7 linked regions of the Homo sapiens genome follow. The protein of the gene in region 7 purifies or fractionates together with the protein of the main gene of each other region. This does not show direct contact. Each region holds a gene or a part of one and is shown on either strand. Other genes may lie near its edges.

Evidence for each region.
Region 1: the proteins of USP48 (region 7) and PAH purify together in Homo sapiens (affinity purification with mass spectrometry, with the first as the bait; one large-scale study listed by BioGRID). This does not show direct contact.
Region 2: the proteins of USP48 (region 7) and CTPS2 fractionate together in Homo sapiens (co-fractionation; one large-scale study listed by BioGRID). This does not show direct contact.
Region 3: the proteins of USP48 (region 7) and RBM26 purify together in Homo sapiens (affinity purification with mass spectrometry, with the first as the bait; one large-scale study listed by BioGRID). This does not show direct contact.
Region 4: the proteins of USP48 (region 7) and NCBP2 purify together in Homo sapiens (affinity purification with mass spectrometry; 2 studies listed by BioGRID, with this or other methods). This does not show direct contact.
Region 5: the proteins of USP48 (region 7) and SEC24D purify together in Homo sapiens (affinity purification with mass spectrometry; 2 studies listed by BioGRID, with this or other methods). This does not show direct contact.
Region 6: the proteins of USP48 (region 7) and HTATIP2 fractionate together in Homo sapiens (co-fractionation; one large-scale study listed by BioGRID). This does not show direct contact.

What each region holds. Positions count from the first base shown.
Region 1 is NC_000012.12:102,854,745-102,858,244, forward strand, and holds part of PAH (phenylalanine-4-hydroxylase), read right to left. Parts: intron 589-3,500; coding exon 392-588; intron 58-391; coding exon of another isoform or gene 41-57; exon of another isoform or gene 1-40. UniProt on the Homo sapiens protein: Catalyzes the hydroxylation of L-phenylalanine to L-tyrosine.
Region 2 is NC_000023.11:16,699,170-16,702,669, reverse strand, and holds part of CTPS2 (CTP synthase 2), read left to right. Parts: intron 1-3,500. UniProt on the Homo sapiens protein: Catalyzes the ATP-dependent amination of UTP to CTP with either L-glutamine or ammonia as the source of nitrogen. Constitutes the rate-limiting enzyme in the synthesis of cytosine nucleotides.
Region 3 is NC_000013.11:79,403,456-79,407,463, reverse strand, and holds the start of RBM26 (RNA-binding protein 26), read left to right. Parts: upstream 1-1,208; 5' UTR 1,209-1,689; coding exon 1,690-1,760; intron 1,761-2,697; exon of another isoform or gene 2,698-4,008. UniProt on the Homo sapiens protein: May be involved in the turnover of nuclear polyadenylated (pA+) RNA.
Region 4 is NC_000003.12:196,934,906-196,937,217, forward strand, and holds the end of NCBP2 (nuclear cap-binding protein subunit 2), read right to left. Parts: intron 2,178-2,312; coding exon 2,106-2,177; 3' UTR 501-2,105; downstream 1-500. UniProt on the Homo sapiens protein: Component of the cap-binding complex (CBC), which binds co-transcriptionally to the 5' cap of pre-mRNAs and is involved in various processes such as pre-mRNA splicing, translation regulation, nonsense-mediated mRNA decay, RNA-mediated gene silencing (RNAi) by microRNAs (miRNAs) and mRNA export.
Region 5 is NC_000004.12:118,833,327-118,837,509, reverse strand, and holds the start of SEC24D (protein transport protein Sec24D), read left to right. Parts: upstream 1-1,383; 5' UTR 1,384-1,569; intron 1,570-3,772; 5' UTR 3,773-3,813; coding exon 3,814-3,931; intron 3,932-4,183. UniProt on the Homo sapiens protein: Component of the coat protein complex II (COPII) which promotes the formation of transport vesicles from the endoplasmic reticulum (ER).
Region 6 is NC_000011.10:20,370,214-20,373,713, reverse strand, and holds part of HTATIP2 (protein HTATIP2), read right to left. Parts: intron 1-3,500. UniProt on the Homo sapiens protein: Represses translation by preventing reactivation of elongation factor eEF1A. May also inhibit nuclear import by competing with nuclear import substrates for binding to a subset of nuclear transport receptors.
Region 7 is NC_000001.11:21,755,650-21,759,149, reverse strand, and holds part of USP48 (ubiquitin carboxyl-terminal hydrolase 48), read left to right. Parts: intron 1-1,366; coding exon 1,367-1,487; intron 1,488-2,445; coding exon of another isoform or gene 2,446-2,447; coding exon 2,448-2,604; intron 2,605-3,500.

The sequences.
Region 1 (3,500 bases), on a different chromosome or scaffold from region 7:
CGAAAATAGCACATTTCTTACACAAACACACACTCCTAACTCATAACACAGCAGGAACTACAGGGCAAACAAAACAAAACAAAACAAAAAAAAACCTCAGTGAAGCACCTTGGGCTTTAAGTGTGAAAGAAAATACTTTTCAGGGACAGGTACACGGCAAAATCCACAGCCTCAGGTGTTTGATTGAATGAAAGTGGATAAACACAGTAGGGGCTGGAGGGAAGGCAGAGCACAGTGAAATTTAGTTCTTCCTGGAGGAATCAACCTGCATGCATTCCTACAAGCACATGCTTTCATACTTGCCTCCACATACTTGTCTTCCCCTTCCCTCTCCTCTGCCTCAATCCTCCCCCAACTTTCTGCAGGGCCATTGACCCTGATGTGGACTTACTCTGCAGGAACTGAGAAACGTCTTCCAGCTGGGGAATGTTATCTTCATGGAAGCCACAGTACTTTTCAAGAAGTGGAAAAATGTGATTGTACTCATAGCAAGCATGGGTTTTATACAAGGACTTCAGAGTCTTGAACACTGTGCCCCATGTTTTCTTTTCTTCCTCCATGTATTCCACTCGAGGGATGGGCTGCCCACTAGAATACAGGCACAAAATAGGTGTCTCAAGCAGGGCAGGGGCACAGCAGAACGCAGGTTAGGTTAGCAGAGGGAGTCGGGGACCAGAACCTGTGAGCTGCCATCACTTGCTACAGTGAATTTCATACATTATTTGAAAGAGAAAAATTCCACATCTTGATATAGGAAACATTGTTGTTTTGATTTCCCACATGAAAGGGTGATTTGGTTAAGCAGTGATACAGGCTACAATGAGGATTTGCTCTCACTTTCGGGAAATCACTTGGTTTTTCTACTCTTCTAATTCTCTAATTGCTTACCTGGGGTAGAAATTCACTTACCTGCACGGGCCAGTCAGGTATCACAAAGCTGTAAAGTTGCAGAGATTGGCAATAAGGAGAATGGGGGCTGGCAGGAGAATATATTCCCTTTCTAAACCAGGGCATCTAAGTTAAAGCAACACAGTGTATTTTTATGGTGTTAGCTAAAGCAATTAAACCAGTGGGCTAAACTGGATTTAATATGTAGGCCACGAATCTGAGATCCCCTTTGTTTGGTAGGCATGCACTTATTGGGTTTGATATTTCTGCTCCTGGGAAGTTATAAAGGTATTTAAATACATACTAATTAAGATTCCACATTGTATACATATATCAAAACATCATGTTGTACACCATATTTTATATACAATTATATAATTATATACAATTATATAATTGTATATAATTAAAAATTATATACAATTTTTATTTGTCAATTAGAAAACTAAATAAATAAGTTCTAGATCAAGGATAATAAATAAATATTGGAACAAAGGAGAGAAAATAAATATATAAATCCATGCTAAGGTATAAAATGCCTCATACCTTCTCTTCACTGAGCTTGTTCAAGTACATATGCCAGGCCGCATAGATCCTGAATCTCTTGGGGAAGGGAAGGCTCACATATCTGGATTCTAGTAAGCTCCCCAGGTGACTCTGATGCAAACTATAGTTTAAAAGTCGTTAGTTTTAAAAGTCCGGGAAGCTCAAACTGGGTGGAGCCCACCACAGCTCAAGGAGGCCTGCCTGCCTCTGTAGACTCCACCTCTGGGGGCAGTGCATAGCCAAACAAAAGGCAGCAGAAACCTCTGCAGACTTAAATGTCCCTGTCTGACAGCTTTGAAGAGAGTAGTGGTTCTCCCAGCATGGAGTTTGAGATCTGAGAACGTACAGACTGCCTTCTCAAGTGAGTCCCTGACCCCCGAGTAGCCTAACTGGGAGGCACCCCCCAGCAGGGGCAGACTGACACCGCACACGGCCGGGTACCCCTCTGAGACAAAGCTTCCAGAGGAATGATCAGGCAGCAACATTTGGTGTTCAGAAATATTTGCTGTTCTGCAGCCTCCGCTGCTGACACCCAGGCAAACAGGGTCTGGAGTGGACCTCCAGCCAACTCCAACAGATCTGCAGCTGAGGGTCCTGACTGTTAGAAGGAAAACTAACAAACAAAAAGGACATCCACACCAAAACCCCATCTGTGTGTCACCATCATCAAAGACCAAAGGTAGATAAAACCACAAAGATGGGGAAAAAACAGAGCAGAAAAGCTGAAAATTCTAAAAATCAGAGCACCTCTCCCCGTCCAAAGGAACACAGCTCCTCGCCAGCAATGGAACAAAGCTGGACAGAGAATGACTTTGATGAGAGAAGAAGGCTTCAGACGATAAAACTTCTCTGAGCTAAAGGAGGAAGTTCGAACCCATTGCAAAGAAGCTAAAAACCTTGAAAAAAGATTAGATGAATGGCTAACTAGAATAAACAATGTAGAGAAGTCCTTAAATGACCTGATGGAGCTGAAAACCATGGCACGAGAACTACGTGACAAATGCACAAGCTTCAGTAGCTGATTCAACCAACTGGAAGAAAGGGTATCAGTGATTGAAGATCAAATGAATGAAATGAAGTGAGAAGTTTAGAGAAAAAAGAGTAAAAAGAAATGAACAAAGCCTCCAAGAAATATGGTACTATGTGAAAAGACCAAATCTACATCTGATCGGTGTACCTGAAAGTGACGGGGAGAATGGAACCAAGTTGGAAAACACTCTGAAGGATACTATCCAGGAGAACTTCCCCAACCTAGCAAGGCAGGCCAACATTCAAATTCAGGAAATACAGAGAATGCCACAAAGATACTCCTCGAGAAGAGCAACTCCAAGACACATAATTGTCAGATTCGCCAAAGTTGAAATGAAGGAAAAAAATGTTAAGGGCAGCCAGAGAGAAAGGTCAGGTTACCCACAAAGGGAAGCCCATCAGACTAACAGCTGATCTCTCGGCAGAAACTCTACCAGCCAGAAGAGAGTGGGGGCCAATATTCAACATTCTTAAAGAAAAGGAATTTCAACTCAGAATTTCATATCCAGACAAACTAAGCTTCATAAGTGAAGGAGAAATAAAATCCTTTACAGACAAGCAAATGCTGAGAGATTTTGTCACCACCATGCCTGCCCTACAAGAGCTCCTGAAGGAAGCACTAAACATGGAAAGGAACAACTGGTACCAGCCACTGCAAAAACATGCCAAATTGTAAAGACCATTGATTCCGGGAAGAAACTGCATCAACTAACGAGCAAAATAACCAGCTAACATCATAATGACAGGATCAAATTCACACATAACAATATTAACCTTAAATGTAAATGGGGCTAAATGCTCCAATTAAAAGACACAGACTGGCAAATTGGATAAAGAGTCAAGACGTATCAGTGTGCTGTATTCAGGAGACCCATCTCACGTGCAGAGACACACATAGGCCCAAAATAAAGGGATGGAGGAAGATCTATCAAGCAAATGGAAAATGAAAAAAGGCAGGGGTTGCAATCCTAGTCTCTGATAAAACAGACTTTAAACCAACAATGATAAAAAGAGACAAAGAAGGTCACTACACAATG
Region 2 (3,500 bases), on a different chromosome or scaffold from region 7:
AATTTCTTTAGGATGTAGTTCCAGATTTAGAGTGACTAGATCGTATGCTATGAATATGTGAATTTTCTCATGGTCATTGATACATTGTTCATACCTCTGATGACATTCCAAATTAATCATCCCTTTTGGAAACATTGTATCTTTTGCACTACAGATTCTGTTTTATTTTTAACATAAAGGTAGTGTGTTTCTCTTAACATTTCCCACTGCCTGGAGTAACTATTATTAATGGTGACATTTTGATGTATGAGTATATTTGATTTATTTTTAAAATGGCATTAGCCCTTACATGCTATTTTTAAAAAACTTTTTATAAGGCCCAGTGCGGTGGCTCATGCCTGTAATCCCAGCACTTTGGGAGGCCGAGGCAGGTGGATCACGAGGTCAGAAGATCGAGACCATCCTGGCTAACACAGTGAAACCCTGTCTCTACTAAAAATACAAAACATTAGCTGGGCGTGGTGGCACGTGTCTGTAGTCCCATCTACTCAGGAGGCTGAGACAGGAGAATCACTTGAACCTGGCAGGCGGAGGTTGCAGTGAGCCAAGATCGAGCCATTGCACTCCAGCCTGGGCGACAGAGCGAGACTCTGTCTCAAAACAAACAAACAAACAAACAAACAAAAACAACAAAAAACCAACCCCCAAAAAAACCTTTTTATATACAAGCAAAAAAGTGCATAAATCATAAGTGTACAGTTGGATGAATTTTCATTAAATGAACACACTGTGTAACCAGCCCCTGATCAAGAAACAGAAATGTTCATGTCCTGCCGGGCGTGGTGGCTCACGCCTGTAATCCTAGCACTTTGGGAGGCTGAGGCGGGCGGATCACGAGGTCAGGAGATCGAGACCGTCCTGGCTAACACGGTGAAACCCCGTCTCTACTAAAAATACAAAAATTAGCCGGGCGCGGTGGCGAGCGCCTGTAGTCCCAGCTACTCGGGAGGCTAAGGTGGGAGAATGGCGTGAACCCAGGAGGCGAACTTGCAGTGAGCCGAGATTGCGCCACTGCACTCCAGCCTGGGTGACAGAGTGAGACTCCATCTCAAAAAAAAAAAAAATGTTTGTGTCCCTTGTTGCTATCCTGTCTTCCTGTTTTTGTTTTTTGAGACAGGGTCTCACTCTATCGCCCAGGCTGGAGTGCAGTGGCCAAGATCTCGGCTCAATGCAACCTCCACCTCCTGTGCTCAAGTGATCCTCCTGCTTCAGTCCCCTGGGTAGCTGGGATTACAGGTGTGCACCACCACACCTGGCTAATTTATGTAATTTTTTTATAGAGCTGGGATTTCGCCATGTTACTTAGGCTGGTCTCGACCTCCTGGGCTCAAGCAATCCTCCTACCTCGGCCTCCCAAAGTGGTGGTATTACAGGCATGAGCCACTGCAACAGGCATGAGCCACTGCACCAGGCCTTGAATATCGTGTTTTAAACTTTACTAACCTGAGAATAAAACAAACAAAAAGAGGGTATCTTATTGTTTTAATTTAGAGTTCTTTGATTTTGATTTTGTTTGTGAATGACTTATTCAAGTCTGTGGTAGATTGTATTTTTGCTTCAAAATGTTACCCACCATCCCTCTGTGGAGTACATTTCCCTGCCCTTTGACCTTGGAGTTTGGCCACGTAGGATAGTTAACTTGTCCTGGTTTGTTTGGAATGTTCCTGATTTTAAAACAGAAAGTCCTGTGTCCTGGGAGCCCTCTTAGTCCTGGGCAAACCAAGCAGGTTGGTCACTCTATTTGGCCATGTGATTTATTTTGTCCTATGGGATGTTAGGGAATATTAACATATGCCTTGTTGAAGCAGAAAATGTCAAATGCATCTGTGTGGTTTGGCTCAGTCTGTCTTGTGCTTCTGCCCTCTACCATGAGAACAGCCTGGTTTTCAGAGATTTCTCGTTCAGTCTGGGTCCTGGAATGAGAAGACACAAAGAATAGACTCACAAGTGACTCATAGCCCCCATGTAACATGAGGGAGAAATAAATAAATGTTTTGTAAGTTGCAGAGATTTTGGGGTTGTTTGTTGTGTGGCACCATTGACTAATGCCATGTGTTACACCAAATTTTCTTTGGATTTTTTTTTAATGATTTTTTTTTTCTTTTTTTGAGACAGAGTCTCACTCTGTCGCCCAGGCTGGAGTGCAGTGGTGTGACCTCGGCTCACTGCAACCTCCGCCTCCCAGGTTCAAGCGATTCTCCTACCCAGCCTGGCAAACATGGCGAAACTCTGTCTCTATTTAAAAAAATAATAGGCCGGGCACGGTGGCTCACGCCTGTAATCGCAGCATTTTGGGAGGCTGAAGCAGGTGGATCACGAGGTCAGGAGATGGAGACCATCCTGGCCAACATGGTAAAAACCTGTCTGTACTAAAAATACAAAAAAATTAGCTGGGTGTGGTGGTGCACACCTGTAATCCCAGCTACTCAGGAGGCTGAGGCAGGAGAATTGCTTGAACCAGGGAGTCAGAGGTTGCAGTGAGCCGAGATCGCACCACTGCACTCCAGCCTGGCGATAGAGTGAGACCCTGTCTCAAAATAATAATAATAATAATAATGGTAATACAAAGATTAGCCAGGCGTGGTAGTACATGTCTGTAATCCCAGCTACTTGGGAAGCTGAGACATGAGAATTGCTTGGATCCAGGAGGCGGAGGTTGCAGTGAGCTGAGATCACGCCACTGCACTCCAGCCTGGTTGACAGCGAAACTCTGTCTCAAAAAAAAACATTGAAAAAAAAAATTGAAAAAAAAAGTATTGTGATATCAATTTGCTTTTTTCCTTAAAATTAATTTTCTAGACCACAGTTATGTACCTTAGAATGGATAAATAAATTAGGATATAAAAGGCTTCTGATTAAATTTGTAAGTTAATCAACCTTTTTTCCTGTGGACATCTAACAGTAGGAATAAATGATAGTTCCCTTAATAGGGGAAAGGTTCAATTCTTACAAGGTGGCTTTAGAAACATACGACTCTCAGTCCATGCCCTGAAGTGACAATAGAGATCTACAGACGTGTCTAGTAGTTAAAGTTGGTGCTCCTCGTGTGACGAAGTCTGCACCTGTCTTTTATGACAGTGCATTGTGCACGTAGCTTATGGCACACACAGGCTTTTTCCCTCACTTTCACCAAGTTGCCTTATGGGTTAGCTGTGGCCTTGCTTTGTCATCTACTGTCTAATTATGGCTTTAATCAAGATGAGAATCAAGTAAAAGTTTCTTATCGCAGTTCCAGAGTCCAGGATACTGATGCTTTGAAGTAAAATGCTGTTTGTTTTTAAAATTTCTGTTTTCATGTCTTTTTTATGTGGCATATGTTGAGTTTGGAAAAGCTAAATCTTGAAGACAGAATTTCAGTAGATTAAAAAAAAACCACAATAGAATATTATAAATAGAATTTTCTGATGCATTTTCTTGGATATAATTGAATTGTTAATATCTCCACCAAAAAGGAGATGGTGATAGAATATGGCTTACAAATACATCTTTTACCAGCTTTT
Region 3 (4,008 bases), on a different chromosome or scaffold from region 7:
CATTTCCCCTTCTCCTGGGCACCCTCTCCACCCCTGCTCTTGCTACCATTCCACCTTCTGTCTCTAGGAGTTTTGACTACTCTAGGTACTTAATGTAAGTGGAATCATAATATTTGTCCTTTCATGTCTGGTTTATTTCACTCAGCTAAATCACTTTAATCAACACCCTGGTTATTCAGTAGCTGGATTCTAATTTGTATTCTACTCTATATGCTGTATTTTAAAACAAATGTCTTGCTTTGTAGTTCATAATCTTTCCACCTAATCCTTAAAGACACTTCACTCTAGCAAATTATAAACTCAAGAGTTCCTAAGAACAATTTAGCCTATCGGTGTCTCTCATAAAGAGCTTTTATTGATCTACTTACTGAAAATGTCTTTAGATTGTGAATATTTTCATTCCATTACAGTTCATGGAACGTAGACCCTTTGTAAAATTCCACCTAGTATCTAAATAGAACTCAAGCAGGAATCAAACTTATTTGATCACCCAGGAAAATAGTTTATTTATTTGGGTTGCTAATATGAAGACTCTCTCTTTTGATACTATATAATTTCCCGATCTGAGATAGGGCTGAATTTGCTCTAAATAAAGAGAATTTTAAAAATAACAAAACTTATCTTTAGCTGGGGGAAAGTGCAGGCTGGAAACTACCTGAGAGACGTGAAGGTTCTCTCACCTTTCCCTTGTGGGCAGCCCTCAGTCATTAGGGCTCTACCAGCAAGTCAAGTACTGTTGGACAAGACACTAATCCTCTGGCGGTCTCATTGGGCTCCATTAGACCAGCCTGTGTTTACAAACCTCGTTCACATCACAGCATACACAGAATATGATACTGGTAGGGCACTTAGGTAAACTGAGGAGGTAGTGTGCTCGGCACCTGGAACCTACGGGCCGCCTGGTGTCGCGCACGCGGGAGTGTACGCTCTCAAAGAGCGATCCATCCGGCAGGACCGTTCCAGCTGACAGGCCACGGCCGTCTTACCGGGGACGAGCTGGGGTTCCCGCTGTTTCTGAAGTCAGCGGTCTTTTCCTCCTTGTAAGAAATAAGGTCTTTATATCATAAAGGTAAGCAAAGAATAAAAAGGCACAAAGGCCGCAAGCAACGCACACACGCAAAAATCGAACTACAGCACTCGACCCGCGCATTCTCCGCCGACCTTACGTCTCTCCCAGCAGGCTCCGGGAGCCACCGCGAGACTTCATCAATTCTCGCGAGATTTACCGGCAGCCATCTTCTTGGGGGTGCTGGGAGCCGGGAAGACCCCCTGAATCGTTCCCATTGAGCTGCCCTTCGCCTTCGCTTTCTTTACTTTTGCCTTTTCGACGTAGCCAACAAGCACCTGGTCCCGAGGCTGAGAGAAGGCTCGGGTCTAAGCGCGTGTCGCGCTTCCGGTCTGGGTAGATTTGCTGGGGAAGAGGGAAGGGGGAGGGCCCGGGCAAACCGTTGCTGTTTCAGCCCGGGCTGGGGGCCGGGGACGGGGAGCTCCTGGCACCCCGTGCACTTGTGGCCTGCGGCGGTCCTTGCAGAGCTGTTCGCCGACCGGGGCCCGCGGGAACCTGCCACCGGCGCCTCCCACCGCGGCCCACGCGGGCGGCGCGCGGAGGAGGGGGCGGGGGCAGCGGCGGCTGTAGCGGCCGCGACCTGGGCGGGCGGAGGAGTGTGACGGGCCTTAGGGCCGCTGTGGATGGTTTCTAAAATGATCATTGAAAACTTCGAGGCACTCAAGTCCTGGCTCAGCAAGACTCTCGAGCCCATGTGAGTATCCGGGGGATATCTCTTTGCAGGGATGGCAGTGGGAGATAGGCGGACCCAGAGATCTGTGCAGTTTCCCCAAGTGCCTGCGGTGGAGGCCGAAGCGGTGAACGGAGGTCCCAGGGTTCTGTGGCTTCTCCTCCTCGTCCACCTCGCTTCCAGATTCAGGATACCCCCGAGAGCCTGAGTCGAGCTTTATTTTATTGCTGAGCTGCTCTCGTTTTCCCGTTATATATAGACCGTCTCCAACCCCCACCCGCAATATTTTCCGGGGGCCTCAAAATCGGTTTATTTTAGTGAAACCGACTGTATTTTACTTCCTACAGATTATTTTACCTTGTTTTTCTAAATGAAGTAGACGGCCTTTATTGGGGATTCGGGCAGTTCTAGCTTAAATCACTCACGTTTCACCTAAATATAATTCCTGAAAGCAAGGCCACGTCTCCCATGTGCTGTCTGGCTCATCTGCACCTCTCTTCACTGATTGAAGATGTAACAGGTGCTGAGGTGGCCAGTAAAATTCCCCTTTCCCGCCTACGCGTTCGTTAGCTTGGAGAGGAGGAAGAAAATTGAATCTTCATCCATATGGAATATTTAGCAGTTTTAAGTGGGATGCTATAGATAGATTTTGTGTTGGGGGCTGCGGTTAGAGTGCTGAAATAGTCTTAGATTGGAAAATTTAAGGAGTGTTTTGACGACTTGTTAATACAAAATATGACATGGACCAAAGTGCTTAATCAGAATTGGTTGATTTACAATAATGCAATGGGGAAAATTCACGTATTTAATAAAGTTATTAGGTACCTACTGTATACTACGGGAGGCTTTGGGGATAGAGCTTTTAAATTCTAAAATCGACAAGACATAAATAAATCCAGATATTAATAGAGTTGTGACTATTGTAATAATAGAGAATCATGTAAAAGTGATTATGAGGGGGGCTATTTCACATTGGTCAAGGAAGGACTCTCAGAGAAGGTGACATTGGAGTAACATCTAAAGAGAAGGGACCATGTGTGTCAAAGTCTTGGAAAAGAACATTCCTTGCAAAAGGAAGAGCAAATGAAAGGCCCTGTAGCAGAAGTGATTGTGGTGTGTTTCAGGAAGAGAAAGGCCACTGTGGCTGGAAAGAGCCTTGTGATGAGGGAGAGGATATAAAGGCAACAAGTTGGACAAGTAGGTAGGGGCCACATCATGTATGGGAAGACGTGAGATGATTTAAAGCAGACAAGGACTGATTTAATTTTGTTTTAACTCTGCCTATTTTGTAGAGACTGAAAGGGCAAGAATGGAAGTAAGAAGATTATTCAGAAGTGTGTTGTAGGCAGAGATGTGGCTAGTTTGCATTAGAGTGATGGTGGAGACAGGCAGATCCAAATACATTTCATAAGTAAAATTAATGGATTAAATGCGGGAGATGAGGGAAAGGGAAATCAAGGGTGGTGCCTTAGATAACCCAAGCAACAGAATGGGTGATATTAGAGAAGGCAGAGAACAGGTTAAGGGGAGAAGGAAAGTGGATGGCTAGTTTTGATAATAATAAATACAGTAAGTATGAAGTCTGTGGGATACAGCTAAGTGTGATAGCAGATCATTGAATATATGAGTCTAAAACTCAGGACAGGACTGGAGAAATCTGGAGTCATGCAGATAGTATTTAAGACGATGACATTGTGGGAAATTTCATAGAAAAAGTGTGTAGGTAGGGAAGAGAAGAGGGCCTAGTACTGAGGCAGGAGGAAAACTGGGCTTTATGTCATTAAAAAACAAGTGTATGGCAAAAGAGAGGAGTTTATGAAATGCTGCAGAATGCATGAAAAAATGGAGGCAAATAGGTAGCCCTTAGATTTAGCAAAGTGGAAGTCATTGGTAACCTTAGCAAAATAGTTTCACTGGAGTAGAGTTGTGCAGATGGAAGTCCTATTTCGGTGTATTGGAGAGTGGGCATCATAGTATAGCGGTGAGGAGAACTCTGGAGCAGAATGTCTGGCTTTGAATTCTGCCTCTGCCACTTACCAGCTGTATGATATTGGGTAAGTTACTTAACTCAGGGCTTCCATTTCCTCAACTGTAAAATTGGGAAAATAATGGGTGTATATTAAGGAAATCTTAGACTACTGTCTGGTGTGTAATTAGCATTCAGTAGTTATTAGGTGAATACAAAACTTATAAATGTTTTGGATTGAAATAGCTTTCCTTTAAGCGTTCAGTTTCATATTAGATTTACTGCCGTATCCCTCCATCTTACCTA
Region 4 (2,312 bases), on a different chromosome or scaffold from region 7:
TGACTGAGAAACTGAATGTTTAATTCTCACACTTCACTAACATGTATTAATAGTGATGCCTTCATCTGTACGTTTGAATTTTCACTTTTCTCCGATTAAAGTGAGAAACAGGTCAGATGCTATCCATGAGAAATAGGAAAGAATGGTGCAGTAAAGAGACTCACATTTAGTGTTCTCTAGCCCAGGAAACATAAGATGTTCTTAATCCACCCACAATTTCCCTTCCCTTGCAATCATCCAGAGCATGTTTTTTGGAAAACTAACCTATTCTTCCATCAGTAGAGGTTGCTTGGTGCCTATTTGATCACTTTCACAAGAAAATCTGTGCGCTCTCTTCACACGCAGCAATAGTTATTTCCAACTGTCAGTCAATCAAAATGGACACGCGAATTGTCCACACTATTCATAGAATCCCCCTGGAACTCATTCATGTGTATCCAGAGTACAGGAATTCCAGAACACAACCCTCTTTATAGGCCAGGAAACAGGCAGCAACAACGATAAGTTCATCCAGCTTTATTGAAACCTATTACAGAAGACAATCCGAATAAAACCACTGTCTCCTGTAGAAATCTGAGTTATGTTGTTTTACTACAAAAGAATATAAAACACATTAAATTACAGTGTGAAGGAATTTTAAAAATGAACAGTGTATCCTCATTAAATGTTTGCAAAGTTTCTTCCTAAGCACTTACAACTAGTTACAGCTCTTTTAAAAATTCAGATTTCTACACTCAGTTTAACGGGAGAGACATTCACACTTAGGTACTTCAGCCCCAACTTTCACGGACTATTGGAAATTAGAAGGTACTTTGTTGCTAAGTGAAAAAAATGCACATTTTTTCATATCAGGGAAAATTATACTGGACTTAACAGTTTTAAATGAGCAATAACTCAGATATATTAGAGAGAAATCACCTCTTGCCTTACAAATACCAAATAAATTCCCTAGACTCCCCTCCCTGTAGAGACCATCAGCTCACTGTGAAGGCTTGAGCCTCAGTAGGTAAAATTTGAGGAAAAAAATGAGAAATGGCTAAAAGAGGCATCTGCTGCAGGAACCTTCTGTGACTGTCAAACATTCCCTCTTCAAGCTCCCTTTTAAAACCCAGTCCATTCCCAACATCACTGAAAATGAAAAGAATAAACTTGCTGGTCCTCATGTCAAGGCAGTGTTTTCATTGTCTCTTGATATTTTATCCCATTTCCTATTGACAACATCTCCCCTACCCCTGAAATTATTTAGAGGTTCCCTCTATGACAAACCCTTGCTTTTTTTTAGCTTTAGGTATAACACTGACATCTTTTGAAAAACGTGTTAGTAAATACTCAAGTTCTGGCCTCATTTCCTGATGTATGAAGCATGGAAGCAGTGCTGTCCTGTGGAGATTGCTTTTGCACCAACTACACAGGAAGGTCCTTGACCTCTAAGCATGCCTTTAGAGGTTAGAATTCACAGAAAACAAATTCAATTGTCAAACACCTGTTCCTAATTTTGTGCAAAGCAATACAACATAGCACAACTCCATTTGTTGTTTTTCGTTGTGCTTTGTAGAGACGGGGTCTTGCTATGTTGCCCAGTCTAGTCTCAAACTCCTGGCCTCAAGCTATCCTTCCTCCTCAGCCTCCCAAAGTGTTGGGATTACACGTGTGAGCCACCATGCCTGGCCCCACCTCCATTTATTAGGCTATCTCATGCAAACTTAAAATTAAAAAAATAATCCCAGGCCCCAATGTAGATCATGAACCTACTTAAGACTCATTATGGTAAAAACAAATTCTTACATTTTTCTGTCTTTCTAAAAGTGTAGTGGTTATGGCTAAAGACTAATCAACATTACAGATCCAATCTGTTGTCAAAGAACACAATTTCTGACCTGGTAACAAAATTGTTCTGATAATCTGACACATGGCCAAGATTCTCAGACAAGAATTAAAGGCATTCTTTTGGATTCTGTCCTTTAATAACTTTCAGAGGCTTCCAGCTCAGTAAAGACACTGATCAAATCTTGGTAAAAATGGGCTCGTGTGCAGACTTTAGGTGATGTTCTTCAGCAAATTCAACAGGCCAAAGGAGTGTTTGTCACTGACAGAGCTCTCACCACTCACTGGTTCTGTGCCAGTTTTCCATAGCCTCCTCTCCCAGCATCGTAGTCCTGCCGATACTCATCCCGAACCTTTAATGGAAAGAATCCAGAGTTACAGTATGGAAAAGAATGGTGTAACAAATATGCCTCCCACAAACATGTTAGACAAACAGTGAAACCTGTTCAGATGCCACAATGTGAACATTTCAAGCAGGACATATGCAC
Region 5 (4,183 bases), on a different chromosome or scaffold from region 7:
ATCACATTGAGAATACAAGAAACAATTTAAAACAAAAATTTCAATGTGGGTTTTCAAACCTGATCAGTGTTGAAGCTGGATGTAGGCCAGATATCTTACCTTAAAATCTTTTTTTCTTTTTCTTGAGACAGGGTCTCACTCTGTTGCCCACGCTGGAACGCAGTGGTGTGATCATAGCTCACTGCCTCCTGGCCTCAAGCAATCCTCCCTGCTTGGCCTCCCAAAGTGCTGGGATAACAGGTGTGAGCCACTGTGCCTTGCCCCATGCCTTAAAAACTTTTAAGAGTGGGATAAATGGACCATATATCTTTACTGCTAAAATGACTTAAAATTCCTGCACAATTCATGTAGCATTTCGGGAGTAGCAACATCCCCATGTACGTTTTTACCTAGGCAGTTCATCAGTAAAGGTATTTGTCAAGTGGCTTTCTTGTAGCCGGGAAGAAAGTGCATGTTAAAAACAACAACACCGGGCTGGTTTTTACTTTGTAAGTTTGAGCAAAGTGGTAGCTATACCAAACCTGGGAGTGGCTGAATGTCTTTCTATTTAGCAGTGAAAGATGATAGGAAACCAGCCAGATGGTCCTGATTTTAGGGTGAGATAGAGAGGTAAGCTCCAGATCTCATATAGGTTGCCTTTATTTCTGAGCTGTTTCTCACAGGACGGTGAGCTAAACGCTGGGTGCTTTTCCATGCAGAGATTCCTGTTTGGGGCTGGGATCAGCCATCCTACTTCACAAACAAGGAATATGCGGAAGAAGGAGTATACACAACGCTAACAACCCCAATATCAATGGAAACCCCACTTCCCACACTTTTCCTTTGGGACATCTCCCCCACCCCCCACTCCTCCCGCGTTACACGTTGCCAGGCTGCTTTGGGCGTTCCTTCCTCTGTAGTGCATTGCACGGGTACGTCATCAAATGTGCGTGTACACGTGCCAGATTCGCCTTTAAACGGTAATCTCCCCTAGGTCCAGATCGTGTACTTTCCCGTATGTAACGGTAGTGCAGTACCTGAACTATTAGTTATTTAAGTAATACGTAATGAATGAAGAGCTGAAACTGCAACCTGTTGATGGAAGAATGAATGAACGCGCTCCCCTCCTTCCTGCGGGGCTGCGCCGAGAAAATACGGTTCTGATTTAGCCACGACGTTAAAGGCTTTGACCTGTAGGGGGAGGGGAAAGAAAAGACGGGAAAAAGAAAACCAAAAAACAAAAAACCGGAAAAAGGGAAAAAGCGAAAAGGGGGAGGTCGCTCGGCCGCTCGCAGGCTCAGCCCGGTGGCCCCGCCCCGCGGCGGCCGGTGGCTGTGCGCGTGCGCAGGCGGGAGCGCGGCGGCTGGTCCAAGCCCGGCGCTGGGGGCGCGCAGCCGAGAAAGGGTTTGACGTGGCAGTTCCCAGCCCAGCTGCAACTCCGAGCGTGAGTCCAGGCTAAGGGGACGCCGGCCGGGGAAGAGGCGCGGCGGGAGAAGCGACCGCAGCGGGAGCCCGGCCACCGAGGGCTGCCGGCACTAGGCGCAGAGCCGCCAGCGCTCGGAAGCCCGCGGGGTGCGGGAGCGGGAACAGGTAAAGCCTCCCACCCGCGGACGCCTTCATGCGGGACAGCCCTGCCCAGGCACAGCGGAGCGGGTTGCGGCGCCCGGCCCGGGGACGCGGCGGGAGGCCGGGTGCTCACCTGAGGCAGTGGCGGCGGGAGGAGAACTCATTCTTTGTTCTTTAGCCTTCTAGTGCAGTTTAATAGTGGGGCCGGCGGGATGGGGGAGCAGGAGGTGGGCGTGGGCATTTTTTACCCGCCCCCACCTTTTGCCTTGGGATGCAGGAACTGCCTTGTTAGGATCCTCAGTGGCCACCATTCGAGTGTCATTGCCAGCGGTTTTCTCATCTCCTTATCAACTTAATTTCCTTTTTTGAAGGAAGGAAATGTTAGAAATATTCATGGTAAAAATGGCAACTATATCTTGAAGCCTCGGGACATCCGAATAGTGAAACTGATCTGGCCAAATACGAACTTGTTCCAGGGTTAGAAGTGCACCTTGGCTAGAGTTGCTGGGTGACAGTGAGCCAGGGGGCCGTTCTGGGGTTGGGGCTCCCCAGATTTTGATCCTAGGCCTGCTTATACCAAGTGGCTTTCTGCCGTGTCGCCGCTTGAAGCTGAGTCAGGTTTCTTTAACTTGGTGCTCTGTGTGAGGAAGTTTGACGTGGCAAACTGGGTTGCGTGAGGAAGCTGATTCCTCTGAGGACCAGTTCAGAGGGAACTGGCTGCTTCCTGTTCTTTGGAGTGACCATCTCAGCCTCTCTTTTCTGTCACTCAGCAACAGGCTGCTACTTAGGTGTGTTCGTGCCGACTTCCTAAGTGCTCTTGGTTGGATGAGCTTGACCAGCGCTCAGGCTGCCACGTCTCTCTCTGCTAAGTGGGAGGAGGAAAAAGGGGTTGTCAGAAACAAAGTGGACCAGAAGGCCTTTGCCTGCCTCTCTCCTCTTTTTCAGTTCTCCCCTTCCCAGGAGAAGGAAATGATCTCATAATATTTTTACATGGTTGCTTTTATTTTGGAAACTTATAGTTTAATATGGAAACAAAATCAAATCACAAATTTTAGGCTTCAAATTTTTAATTTGAAATGTTATTTCTTGAATATAGACAGATTCTAAGTCTTAGCAGGTATCACTGATCTCTTATCTTAAATTGTAGCAAATAAAAGAACAAAAGGAAGAATATGCTTGTATGGGGCAAATAAACTGGAGATAAATTGTAGAATCAGTGGAAATCTGGAAAGGCTTCATTTTCTAAAAGAAGGAACTGAGGCTTAGAGAGGTTCTTCAGCTCATTCCATGTCACACAGTTAAGTATGGCAGACATAGAATGGAAACCCACTTCTCTTGCATTCAAAGCATTTTCTGTCGTATTTAATTTTTTTTTTTAAATCATCAGTCCTATGAAATATCTCTTATTTTGTTAAAACCTGGAAAAAATAGAAAATTTAAAGCAAATTTGGGTTCTGATTAGAATCAAGATTTAAAAAAAATCAAGATGAGTCTGTTATATTTGTGATGTGTGTGCCTACACACTTACAAAATTACACTTTTTTTCCTTAGTCCCCTAAATATAGGTGCATATGTTCTTAGAGATGTGATATGATTTAAATTAGAAAGAAATTCTGTCGCCTTTGAAAAACCACTGACAACACTCAAGTGGTTATAGTGACCACCTGGCTCGGTCAAATTATGACTCATAAAATAAGCCCATTATCAACGTTGTCTGTTGCTATGTTTGTTGGACTATGATTTCTCTTTGTCCTAATGACTAGATTAAAATAATTAATTAGATGAGCACTAAAAAGACGTAAGTCATAAAACATCTGATTGCAGGCTACTGGCAGTTATGGTGGTCAGTCAATTGAATGGCATGGTGTGCTCTGTGCTGAAATGTGACCATGGAAACCAAAAGCACAAAATCATAGGAACACTATGAGAGACTATCTGTGAGATGCTTCAGGCTTCCATTAAAAAAGTGGTTGCGAGTTATTATTCAGGTCTCATGCTTGAGAATTTGCCCAGGATTATTGAAGTGATTTACTGAGTTTCAGAGAGCTATGGTTAGGCCCTTTTTAGGGGATAATGATATATTGTATAATACAAAGATTTCTCATGTACCTGATATCTGTACTTTTCCTCAAACCATCATAAACATGTAATAACAGTGTTTATATTTTTAATAGCTTTACGTAACTAAAACTGTCTTGGTAACATGTTTCTTGTTTCTCTGTTGCAGACTTCTTTTGTAGAATTATCCTATGGAATGATATTTTCATAATGAGTCAACAAGGTTACGTGGCTACACCTCCGTATTCTCAGCCTCAGCCTGGAATAGGCCTTTCTCCACCTCATTATGGGCACTATGGGGATCCGTCGCACACAGCATCTCCAACAGGTACAGTGTGTTATTTTGACTTGTATGTGATTATTCAGTTCTCAGGCTCAGAGACATAAGATGTTCTGAAAGAGGAGATTTGAAAGCATTGAATGATCATTATATAATGAAATGGCTTGAGATTACAGGATCATTTGGAAAAGGCTCTCATAGCAGAACTCTACATCACTAGTTTGGTTATTGCATGCAATACAAGTTTGGTTTTTAAATATAGACTAAAACAAACACTTCCTGTTTTATTTTTACTGTGAG
Region 6 (3,500 bases), on a different chromosome or scaffold from region 7:
CCCTCATGCCAGTTTATCAGAACTCTGATTTTAATGACAGGTTAGTTATTCACAACAAAATGACACAGTTGACTAGTGAAATAAATTCAGTTTTTTTGTTGTTGTTGTTTTAGCAAGATTGATTGGAAGGATTATTATAGTAGTCTGTTAAAATACTTTTTCTTTCATCCGTTTCTTTAAAAATAAGGGAAAGATTCAGCCAATCACAAGTCTCCTGACCGACGCTGTCTCTCTCACTTAATCCAGAGCCAGTAAAAGGATAATTTGATTAAACTGAGACCCTAATTTATTTGGCTTTAGTTCTGGATCAACCTCTCCTTAATAGAGTGCTGTCGTCTCCAATTGTTTGATGAAAATTAAAGTGACATAAATACCATGGGACTTTTTCAATCTGATTAGTCAGCGAAGGCACATCAATACCACCCCGGCCATCAGACTTTGGCGTCCTTCCTTTCACCCGCCTCGCTAACGACTGACAACCGCTCCTTGAAGGACGAGCACCCACGCTGCTGCAGAGACCCCCACACTTAGCCCATCATCCCTGCTCAATGGGGCCTGTTGACAAGGTGCCCATACCTTTCTCCATTGCTGTTCTCTGGACAAAGCTAAATATTGTTTTATTAGCAATCAATGGCTGTTAATCCAAAACGATTTCACAAATCCTCTGAGCCTTCAAGCTCATTATAAATACGCGTTTTTCCAAGCCCACTAAATTTTGAATTTCACTTCCGTCACCCTGATGGCGTGGCCTTTTAGCTGGTGAATGAAACTCAAAAGCAAAAGGGTCAACAGCTTTCAAAGACTTAAAAATCAAACTGAAGCATGGGTCCTGATGACTGACTAGGAGGTATCACACACCAATTTTCTCTGGAGTGAGGAAGATTCTATTTACAGATGAAAGGAGCGATCTCGAAAATCTTATTCATGCCCTTTATTGTTCTCCAATAGCTCGATTAAAAAAACAACAGAAAAACTAACTAAAGCAAGCTATTTCATATCTCAGAAACACAATTTTTAGAAAAACTGTACTTAGTTTCCCTAACCATGTGGACAGACATCTCTTCTGAGAGTATTAAGTCCACATGTCATTCTGTCTTTATGATTCCATAGCCAATGTGTCCTGCTCTAAGCTAGGAATCTGAGTCCCTTCTAGAAAAAGGAATTAATTAAATAAGTTCCCACTATAAAGTCCTTTCCCAGCACCCTCTCAAAAAGAATAAACACAGTATACTACACTCAGTAGAGATATCCTCATAGGCTCCACAACATCAAAGGCAGCAAATTCTCCAACGACTCTTAAGTCTTACTAAAATCCAAAGCTACTAAGTATTTCTTCTAATCTTCTTTACCAGTGCCTGAAAACTAAAAACAACATTCTGGCTTCAGAACAACTCATCCTAACAAGGTATAGTATTTCAGTGCTGACTGATAGGACAAGTTAGCACGTCTAAACGACTCAAGAAGGTCATGGGGTCAGGCACGGTGGTCTGTGGTCCCAGCTACTCAGGAGGCTGAAGCAGGAAGATCGCTTGATCCCAGGAATTTGAGTCTAGCCTTGGCAACACAGTGAGACCCTGTCTCTAAAAAATTAATTAATTTATAAAAAAGTAAATCATGGGGATCTTTTTCCAAGAAGGGTGGGTCTATCATTCTGTAAAGGTCCCATTCAGCCCTATTTCTGCTTCAGGTTCTTTCTCCTTCACTCCCTTTCAATCCAACCCTATAAATTAGACTAGAAAACAAAGATGCTGACAAACACCAAATGGTATAATCTGAGGCACCTTTTGTTTGTGTCCTGGAGGGCATCTCCATATTTGATGTTCAATGGTAGGGGAAAGATCTTGGTTAGAGAAGTTCTGGATAGATAAATAAAATCAAGCAGATACTGAGGATTCCTGGGTCAATCTATATGTTCTTGAAAAAGTTTTCCAATTGGATATTCTTTCTTCTGTGTTTCATAGAGTCAAAGAATTTTTCAGGCCGGGTGCGATGGCTCATGGTAATCCCAGCACTTTGGGAGGCCGAGGCAAGCAGATCACTTGAACCCAGGAGTTCAAGACCAGCCTGGGTGGGAAGCATGGCAAAACCCTGTCTCTACAAAAAAAAATACAAAAATTAGCCAGCCATGGTGGCGCATGCCTGTGGTCCCAGCTACTTGGGAGGCTGAGGTGGGAGGATTGCTTGAGCTGGGTAGGTGGAGGCTGCAGTGACCGAAATCGCACTCCTGCAGTGAGCCGAAATCACACAACTGCACTCCAGCCTGGGCGATGGAATGAGACTCTGTCTCAAAAAAACAGAAAAATGTTTAAGAATTTTGCAGTAGGAAGGTGGGTTCACTGGTCACCTCCTTCTGACAGACAAGGAGGTAGTGGCCTCCAAAAGCTAACCAGCAAACTCCAGGCTCCATAGCTACTTGGCAACCAAACAGGGCCTGTGATCTGGGTCCCTTGAACCAGCTAGGACCTCGCCACTTCACAAGCCCCCTCCTAGACATCAAATAAACAACAGAGATTAGAACAAGGGTGGGCAAACTTTTCCTGTAAAGGATCAGACAGTAACTATTTTTAGCTTTGCAGGCCTCTGTTGCAACTATATAGCTCTACCATTATGTTAATAGCACAAAAGCAGCCACAGATAATACATAAAGTAATAAGCATGGCTGTGTCCCAATACCACTTTATGTATAAAGACTAAAATTTGAAGTTTTTATATTTTCACATGGTATGACATTATTCTTTTGAATTTTTTAACCAGTTAAAAATATAGGCCGGGTGCGGTGGCTCACGCCTGTAATCCCAGCACTTTGGGAGGCCAAGACGGGCAGATCACGAGGTCAGGAGATCGAGACCATCCTGGCTAACACGGTAAAACCCCATCTCTACTAAAAATACAAAAAATTAGCTGGGCATGGTGGTGGGCACCTGTAGTCCCAGCTACTTGGGAGGCTGAGGCAGGAGAATGGCGTGAACCCAGGAGGCGGAGCTTGCAGTGAGCCGAGATTGCGCCACTGCACTCTAGCCTGGGCAACTGAGCGAGACTCCGTCTCAAAAAAAAAATATATACATAAAGACATTCTTAGCTCACAGGGTGTACAAAAACAGGTGGCAGGCTGTATTGCAAACCTTTGAATTAGAAGAGCAGATCATTAGAATCAGAAGCCATAAGGTTCTAATGAGATGGGCCATGAGATGCCTAATAAATGTCACAGTGGCCACACTAATCACATTAATGACATCATCCACTCAACAGAAAACAAGAACCTGGACTTCTGGAGCCTACTACGACCAGGTGAGGAAACAAATGAAAAGGTGAAACCACATCGAACCACCTTGAATTCACTAATCAAATCCCTCTTTTGATACAAATAAGGGGAAATGAACTATTCTCACTGGCATCTCTAAGTTTTTGTGCTTCACTCCAGGACAATACAGATCTGGTTTTCAAAGGCTATTTCAATCTTCACTAGCAAACAAGTTACTCACTAAAGCAAGGCAAAGGTT
Region 7 (3,500 bases):
AGTGCAGTGGCACGATCTTGGCTCACTGCAACCTCCGCCTCCTGGGTTCAAGCAATTCTCCTGCATCAGCCTCCAGTCTTCAGCCTGTAGCTGGAGTTACAAACGTGTACCACCACACCTGGCTAATTTTTGTATTTCTAGTAGAGACAGGGTTTCACCATGTTGGCCAGGCTGGTCTCAAAACTCCTAACCTCAAGTGATCCTCCTGCCTTGGCCTCCCAAAGGGCTAGGATTACAGGCGTGAACCACCACGCCTAGCCAGTTGATTTATTTTTGTTTGTGTGCATGCGTGAAGTAGTGTGAGAAACAGTCACATGGTCCCAAATTGTTCATTATATGAAAAGGTACATTTCCTTTTCATTCATTCATTCATTCATTCATTCATTCATTCATTTTTTCCAAGACAGAGTCTTGCTCTGTCGCCCAGGCCAGAGTGCAGTGGTGTAATCTCGGCTCCCTGCAACCTCCGTGTCCTGGGTTCAAGGGATTCTTCTGCCACAACCTCCCAAGTAGCTGGGATTACAGGCCCGCACCGCCACGCCCGGCTAATTTTTGTATTTTTAGTAGAGACAGGGTTTCAGGCTGGTCTCGAACTCCTGACCTTGTTATCCGCCTGCCTCAGCCTCCCAAAGTGCTGGGATTGCAGGTGTGAGCCACTGTGTCCGGCCGAAAAGGTGTATTTTCTTTTAACCTTATTCCCACTCATGCTCTGTAGGTAACCAATTTCATTAGTCTCTTGTTTTTCCTTTCTGTATTTCTTTTTGTACAAAATGAGCAGAAATATGTACATGTATATTTTCCTTATATATTTCTTACACATAACAGTATACTAGAGATACTCCTTTGCATTTTGCTTTTTTTACTTAATAATGTGTCCTGGATTTATAAATTACCTTATATCTGTTCATAGATATCTTTTTCATGCTGTGTGTGTGTGTGTGTGTGTGTGTGTGTGTGTGTGTGTTTTACAGTTGCATAGTACTCTGCCATATAGATGTACCATATTGTCTATTTTTGGGCATTTGGGTGGCTTCCAATATTTTGCAATTAACAGACAGTGCTGTAATGAATAACCTTATGAGTGAGATTTTGCATTGTTGGAGGTATAGCCTAAGGAACAGTAAATCCTCAGAAATGAGATTGCTAGGTCTAAAGGTAGTTGTCTATGTAGTTTTGTTAGTGACTGCATTTCTACCAGCAGTATATGCATGCTTTCTTCTCCACACCCTCACAAACTGAGTGTCTTATACTTTCTCAGTTTTGCTAATTTATAGATGAGAAGTGGTATCTCATTTTAGTTTTAATTTGTTTGTCTCTCATGAAACTATGGTCTTTTAAAAATTAAAGGTTTTTTTTTTCCCCTTAGACGAAACTGCAAAGGAAATCCGAATTGCTTGGTTGGTATTGGTGAGCATATTTGGTTAGGAGAAATAGATGAAAATAGTTTTCATAACATCGATGATCCCAACTGTGAGAGGAGAAAAAAGGTAAACCATCATTTTTTAAGCGATTGCTATATGCTGTTTTTTGTTTTTGTTTTTGCTTTTGTTTTGGGCCTGTGATCAGAAAACTCTACTGATTTCAGGTAACCTGTGCAGCTTTAAGATAAGCAGTAGAACTTAAGACTCTAAGCCACTTGAATTGGAACACTTCTTAATGATATGCTTTAAAACAGGCAGCTGCGTAATTCAGTAAGCCTTTAAATAATAGTTTTAGTTTGAATGCTGATTCTATGTTTGCTTTAACATTGCATGTTTTATTTTGAAATCTTAACGCCTCTTTAAAGGAGATGGTAATTCAAGGGAACAAACTCATGATGATAGCACTTTGCTTTCTAGGGCTTGTATTTTATATATAATTTTGCTTTTTAAAAATATACATTAAATTTTCTAGACATAAATCTTAGCATTCACGAAATATCCAAGTTTGTTATATATAGATATTTTAATAAAATAATAATTCTTTGTAAGGTCAGGAATTCCCAACCTTATCTTTGGAAAAAGTTGCAGCCAGTTCCCTCTACCACCGCCAATCTTTAAAATCTCTAGAATATAAAGGAAGTTTTCTGCATAAGTTTTACTTTGTCATTCTGCTGAATGCTGGCAGTTTAGAAATACAGAAAACATAAAACCTATATACGCTTGTTCAAAACCGATCTTTTCTAGAATCCACTGTTCTAATTTTAGATTTAAGTGGCTGGAGAAGACGATATGCTAGAGATGAGCAGTGATGCCGTCCGAAGTCTTTTTCACTCCTGTGGTCAACCCAAAATGGGGCTTTCATGAAAATTATGCCCCACCTCCAGCCAAGAGAAACTTAAGGTGGCTATACCATGTTGGTTGTGACGGTCTTACACATTTTTAATCTGAAAATTTAAGAATAATGCTTAGAAATTGGTTGTTTAAAGGAAAATGGGTTTTATAATTATGAATTTTGTATTTTTGTAGAACTCATTTGTGGGCCTGACTAACCTTGGAGCCACTTGTTATGTCAACACATTTCTTCAAGTGTGGTTTCTCAACTTGGAGCTTCGGCAGGCACTCTACTTATGTCCAAGCACTTGTAGTGACTACATGCTGGGAGACGGCATCCAAGAAGAAAAAGGTGGGTGGAAAGGGGTGGGGGAGAGCTCTCTTCCTGAACATTTTTTTAAACTTTTTTTTTTTTTTTTTTTTGAGTCTTCCTCTGTTTCCCAAGCCAGAGTGAAGTGGCGCCATCTCGGTTCACTGCAACGTCTGCCTCCTGGGCTGAAGCGATTCTCCTGCCTCAGCCTCTTGAGAAGCTGGGATTACAGGCGCCCGCCACCACGCCTGGCTAGTTTTTGTATTTTTAGTAGAGACAGCGTTTCACTATGTTGGCCAGGCTAGTCTCGAACTCCTGACCTCAAGTGATGTGGCTGCCTCGGCCTTCCAAAGTGCTGCGACTACAGGTGTGAGCCACTGTGTCTAGCCTAAACTTATTTTATTATTATTATTATTATTTTTTTAAGACAGTTTCACACTTGTTGCCCACGCTCTAGTGCAATGGCACAATCTCGGTTCACCACAACCTCCGCCTCTCAGGTTCAAGCAATTCTCCTGCCTCAGCCTCCCGAGTAGCTGGGATTACAGGCGTGCACCACCACGCCCGGCTAATTTTGTATTTTTAGTAGAGACGGGGTTTCTCCATGTTGGTCAGGCTGGTCTTGAACTCCCGACCTCAGGTGATCCACCCGCCTCGGCTTCCCAGAGTGCTGGGATTACAGGTGTGAGCCACTGTGCCTGGCCTAAACTTATTTTTTTTATAGAGACAGTGTCTTGCTCTGTTGCCCAGGCTGGTCTTGAACTTCTGGCCTTAAGCAGTCCTCCTGTCTCGGTCTCCAAAAGTGCTGGATTACAGGCATGAACCATGGTGCCAGGCCTTGAATAGCTTTTACCAGCCTGCAAAACCTTTGCACCCCAAGGAGTAATATTTTATCTTTATTTTACAGATGGTATATTGACTTGCTGAAAGCCACAATT